Linked DNA regions of Homo sapiens: region 2 is linked to region 1. Evidence: fine-mapped expression QTL. A gene starts in region 1. The other region holds a variant in brackets. All regions are shown on one strand. Distances are between the middles of the regions. Region 1 holds the start of MATN1-AS1 (MATN1 antisense RNA 1). Region 2 overlaps LAPTM5 (lysosomal protein transmembrane 5).

What was found.
Region 2: its variant is fine-mapped to the expression of MATN1-AS1 in spinal cord (GTEx, PIP above 0.99). The same link has a PIP of 0.9 or more in amygdala, caudate, cerebral cortex, hippocampus, prefrontal cortex and putamen.

The regions. Positions count from the first base shown.
Region 1 is chr1:30,717,226-30,720,124 of GRCh38, reverse strand. It overlaps MATN1-AS1 (MATN1 antisense RNA 1), which reads right to left and starts at 1,353. Exons shown (of 4, transcript NR_034182.1): 1 at 560-1,353. MATN1 (matrilin 1) reads left to right here. Exons shown (of 8, transcript NM_002379.3): 3 at 1,168-1,390. RefSeq lists silencers at 741-830, 1,391-1,910, 1,951-2,130 and enhancers at 488-1,063, 1,161-1,330.
Region 2 is chr1:30,747,623-30,750,521 of GRCh38, reverse strand. The region is part of intron 1 of LAPTM5 (lysosomal protein transmembrane 5); the gene reads left to right. It overlaps LOC105378620 (a long non-coding RNA gene), which reads left to right. Exons shown (of 2, transcript XR_007065566.1): 1 at 1-178; 2 at 590-2,899. Among named protein-coding and RNA genes, the nearest start is that of LAPTM5, 8.7 kb to the left of the region's middle. RefSeq lists enhancers at 1-18, 425-474, 575-654, 1,583-1,762, 2,083-2,392. The variant T/A (reference allele first, on the strand shown) is at 1,378.

The sequences.
Region 1 (2,899 bases):
AGTGGGCCTCGGGATGGCAGCGAATAGTCACAGCTAGATTTTCAGAGCCAGGAGCCCAGGCCCCTGGAGAGGAAGAGATTGTACAAAGTCACTCCCCAGGTAGCCCAGGGTAATGATGGTAAAAATAATAGTTGCCCCTTCTGGCTTCTAACCAGGAGTCATCTCACTCAACCTCACCACAACCCTTTTTACAGTTGAAGACACTGAGGCTCAGGAAGGTGACCTGTAGCTTGTGGAGCTGCATTTCTAAACACGGCCTGTCTCAACTGCCTGTCATCAGGACAGGGTGTCAGGACCTGGGGCTAAGGATGGGACCCAGGAATCAGAAACAGACCCAAGTCAGAAGCAGAGAAGCAGCAAAGCGGGACTGGATGCCTAACCCAGACTGGGCAGAGCTGGGAGCGCCCTAGCCTCAGGGCGGGTGCAGACAGGGGGTCACGAAGCCGGATCTCAGTGACAGAGTCCGCCACCTCTTTCTTTCCAGGGTACAGACCAGAGGAGCCTAGTGGGAGGGGAGCAGGCAGATTCTTTCCCTCTCTGGCAGGGGCATGTATCATACCGGGGAGTGGAGGAGGATAAGGGCGGCATCTTTCTTGGGTTGGTCCCTTGGGCATCCACATGGGAGTGGCCCTCCGTCGGTTCCCTGGTCCAGGGTCCCCGGTCTTACCGGGACAAGGACAGCAAGACGGGAGACGGCAGCCCCATCCCTTAGCTTCGGCTGCCATCTGGTGGCCAAAGCGCAGAACTGCACCATGTGGAACCACCGGATCCCCCCACCCAGCCCCGGCCGGGCCTCCCGGGGGCACGAGGGGCGTGGCACGACTCCCACAGCCATCAGCCTGAGGACCCTGCCCTCAGCCGCCTCAGTCTGAGGGGAAGGCATGGCCCTGACCTTAGAGACCCCAATTTGGCGATGGGGCATCACATCCCTCCGGGCATCTCAGAGCTGCCTGCCCGAGGGAGGCGAAGCAGATGGAAAGCCCCCCAGCCACGTCTCTCAGTCAGAGGAAACGGGTCTCCTCTTCGGCCAGCCGGGTCCTCTTCCCCCGGGTGCCGCCTGGCTGTGCGACCCGGCAGTCCTCCCGCCTCTCCGGGCCTCAGCCTCCTCTCCTGGACAGTCCCGTGGGCTTCCGGGAGCCCGGTGTCACACCGCCCCGCGTGTCGCAGGTGGTCATCGTGGTGACAGACGGGAGGCCCCAGGACAGCGTGCAGGACGTGTCTGCGCGGGCCCGGGCCAGCGGCGTCGAGCTGTTCGCCATCGGAGTGGGCAGCGTGGACAAGGCCACGCTGCGGCAGATCGCCAGCGAGCCGCAGGACGAACACGTCGATTACGTGGAGAGCTACAGCGTCATCGAGAAGCTGTCCAGGAAGTTCCAGGAGGCCTTCTGCGGTGCGCGGGCAGGCGGGGGCGGAGCCAGGGCAGGGGCGGAGAAGGGGAGAGCGGCGGGGCGGGGCCAGGGCTGGAGGCGGGACCGAGGCTGAGGCGCAGACGGAGCCAGCGCCGGCGCAGGGCAGGGGCGGGGCCGGGGGGGGGGCAGAGGCGGAGACGGGAGAGAGATAGAATGTCAGTGCCGGGGCGGGGCCGGGGAGGAGCCGGGGGCGGAGGCGGAGACGGAGAGAGTCAGCGCCGGGGCGGGGCAAGGGTGGGGCCAGGGCAGGGGCGGAGACGGAGAGAGCGGCGGGGCGGGGCCAGAGCAGGCAGGGGGCGGGGCCAGGGCAGGGGCGAAGACGGAGACAGTCAGTGCCAGGGCGGGACCGGGGCGGAGGCGGAGAGAGTCGGCTCCAGGGGCAGGGCCAGGGCTGAGCGGGACGAGGCCGTGGCAGGCGCAGAGACTGAGAGTCCGCGCTGAGGCGGGCCAAGGCTAGGGGCGGAGCCAGCGCTAAAGTGAAGACAGAAAAAGTCAGCGTCGGGGGGCGGGGCCACATCAGAGGGCGGGGCCTGGCTGGGGCGGTAGCCTATAAAACGGCGGGAACTGAGTTACACGGCAACATCAGGGCGGGGCCAGGGCTAGGGACACGGCTTAGGTGGATTGGGGGTGGAACCTGGATTAGACTGAGGTGGTGCCAGCACCAGGGGTGGGGCCGTAGCTGGGGCGGAGCCTGATAACGGAGGAGGGTCTCCAGCCCCAGGTTAAGGGAGTTGGGGAGAGGCGATGTTAAGAGTCCTTTTATGGCCGGGCGCGGTGGCTCACGCCTGTAATCCCAGCACTTTGAGAGGCCGAGGCGGGCGGATCACGAAGTCAGGAGATCGAGACCATCCTGGCCAACATGGTGAAACCGGTCTCTACTAAAAATACAAAAAATTAGCCGGGCGTTGTTGCGGGCGCCTGTAGTCCCAGCTACTCGGGAGGCTGCGCCAGGAAAACGGCGTGAACCCGGGAAGCGGAGCTTGCAGTGAGCCGAGATCGTGCCACTGCACTCCAGCCTGGGCGACAGAGCGAGACGACTCCGTCTCAAAAAAAAAACAAAACAAAAAAAAAAACCGCACACACAAAAAACAACAGAGCCCTTTTATGTGGCAGAATCCTGGCAGGGACCAAGGAGGGCCCAGAGCTCAGGAAGGAGAGCTCCCAGAAAACCTACACATGTTTCTGTGTCGTGAGTTTTGGGTGCCAGAGTTTTCTGTGATGCGGGAGAGTCTGAGAGGCCTGGGCACTGGCAGGAGAAGGTTCAGAGCCCTTCTCGGAGGGGAGGTGTGTGTGTGGGTCTTTGGGATGTGACCCGCAGGGGCAGGGTGTCCAGTAGGACAGGATCAGGGTTAGGGCAGGGACTTTACCCATTTGTAAAATGGGTCTAAGAAGAGCATGCACGTTATTGAGAGGATCCAGTGAGATAATGCAAAATGTAACCCTCATTATATGGTATTTGACAGATAGGTGCTGTGTTCATTGTATGCTGT
Region 2 (2,899 bases), 30 kb before region 1:
TCAAGACTGGCGCGAGGTTGACACGAGAGAGTGTATGGTCAGTCGGCCCTCCCTATCCGCAGGTTCCACATCGTGGATTGCAGATTGAAAATACTCAGATGCAGAGCCCGTGATACAGAGGGCCGACTGTATAAGTTCAGAAGAGGACCTGGCGTCTAATAAATGCACAACAATAATAGTATCAATACTTATTATCACTATTGTGGGTCTTTGCTCTGAAGATAAAGGGAGAAGTGATGGTTTTAGGGAATCGTTTGGGGAGTGGAGGGTGCTTCCCCAGATATCTAGGAAGTGGAGAATGACAGGGCCTTGTGTCATACCTGGAGGCCAACTCTGAGCCCCCCACTGGCTGCTCCTAAAGGGAGATTTGATAAGCTACCACCAGCCAGAATATCTCTGCTGCTGGGATTCACTGGTACTGTTTGCCTTTGGGGCAAAGTTAGCTGCTAGCGCCCAGTCACAGCACTTCCTGTGCTGCAGGTGACAACCTCCTCCAGCGCCATCTGAGCCGTCCGAGTCTAGGTTCTCTAGGTTTTGCATGAGCCGTCACATCTCCTGCATGCTCTTTCCCCTTTCTCTCTAACCCCAGAGGCCCCACCCCTGCCAAACCGGTGGATCCGTGTGTTCCCCCAGCCAACTGCTGCCATTTACTGAGGCCTGCTGCGTATTCAGCACATGGATGACGCCAAATCACAGTTTACTAAGAGGAACGTCTTGCCGTTTCCTGAATGCGTCTCATGCACACTGGCCTCTGCTCATGCCCTTTCCTCTGCCTGGAACACTTTTTCCATTGCTCTTTCGGGGAATCTTCTTCAAGATCCACCTCCTCTGAGAAGCCCGCCCTGACCCCTACGGTTGGACCCTGAGCTCTGGGTGTTGACCCAGAGCCCTGTGTGCTGGGTCCCTGGGAGTCGTGCCCTCTGGCCTGGATGCTCGTTTGGGTCTTGACCCAGCCTGATTCATCTTCATGATCCCGTGGAACCTGGCACAGGAGGTGCCAGCCAATCTCTATTTGATTTTTGCAAACCTTTTCTTGATGTATAATTTACCTATAGAAAAGCACAGCTATCTTAAGTGCACACCTTGGTGGGCTTCTACAAGGTGAACACACCCATGTGACCTCCACCCAAACTAAGAAATCAGACCAGCACCCAGAGGCCCCTAGAGCCCCCGCCTCGCCACTGCCCCGCCCCCACTGACTTCTGCCTGTCTATGTAGTTCTATAATACATACATCTGTAGAATTACGTAGAAATGAAATTCTGCAGCGCGTGTTCTTTTGTGAGCACTTCTTTCTCCCAACGTTATGTTTGGGAGCTTCGTCTGTGTGGTTGCGGGTAGCTAACTCATTTTTTCCATTGCTGTGTATACTCCATTG[T/A]ATGAATCTACCACAATGCATTTGCCTGTTTTCCTGCAAAATAACATTTGGATTGATTCCAGCTTGGGGCTGTTACAAATAAGGCAGCCATGGCCACCAGGCTCCGTGCTGGGTGTCCACACACAGGCACCTGTGCTGCTCAGTTGATCTTTCTGAATCACTGTCTTCAATGATTTACTTCTCACACCCACTCCAGGAGGTGGATGGATTCTTCTCTCCCTTCTACAGATGAGGAAATGTTACAGATGAAGTAACATGGCCAGGCCAGGATCCCACAGGGGATCAGCGGCTGCACTGGGGTTCTCACTGAGGTCTGTGAGCCCCAGAGCCCAGTGGAGGGAGGAGGGGATGAGGTGGAGGCGGCGGGTGAGGACGAGAACTGCGGAAGAGTGAAGAGGAGAGAGAAGCCAGGCTCTGGGGAGCTGCAGGCAGCCAGGCCGGGCTGCTGCGGAGTGCGTGGCCCCAGGAATGGGGGCGTCTGGTGGTATCTGGGCTGGCTGGAGAGGTGGTTGGGGAGATAGTGCTCTTGGGGGGCTGGCCCCCACTGAGCCCTCATAAGCTCTGACCAGAAGCACAGGGTGGGGAAGGGGAGCTTCCTCTTGATGGTGACACATCTGACTCCCTTCTCACATCCTCCTCCCAGGCAACCCAGGGAAATCAGGGTGGGCAGGTGAGGTTGAGGGGACTGAGCTTCAGGGAGGGGCCATAATAATAATGATGATGGCAGAAGTGTGAGGCTGTAGGACACAGGGTCAGGGTGGAGCAGCCCTGAGGGGGAGGGGCAAGGGAGGGCTCTGGCACTTGGGACCCATATGGCAAACTGCATTGTCTGTTGGGAAGGGTTGAAGACAAGCCCGGGCCTGTCTTCTTGTGCAGCCTCTGTCCTGGGCTCGCACATTTGGTAGGAGGAGCCAATGAAGTAAACGGATAGGAAAGTGTCCACACTCTGGCTGGCACGGGTGTGTGCTCACTGACGGCTGGGTCCTTTCTCTATAACCTTTACCTCCCTGAAAATCTCAGATGGTGGGTCTCCGCCTGCCTGCTTCTGAGACGGTGGGTCCTGGGCCTCAGGGAGTGAGAGAGAGTGGGCCTGCTCTCCTGCAGAAGGGACTGGTCTTTGAACCCCAGAATCGGGGGTTCTTGTGTCATCACCACCATCCACATGATATTCCTTATCACCATCCTATCCTGATGTCCCCATTGCCGTCACCCCCATCACTGTCACCAACATCACCAACAGCATCTCTGATCATCACTGTCATCACCACGCCAACTCCAACAACATCCCAACAGCCACTCCCCGCCTCACATGGTCACCATGGCCAGTGCCTCCCAGGTGACACCTGGTGCACTGTTTTCACCGCATCCCCTCTGGTACCGCCATCCTTATTGCCCAGCCATGTTCAATACTGACCCCATTGTCCCCATCTTCCCTGATTTCCATCCTCCAGCCCCTGCCCCCATTCTTTTAGCTCAACCTGTTGCTTGCTCCTCAGAGCCACCAGGAAAAGAAACAAATCCC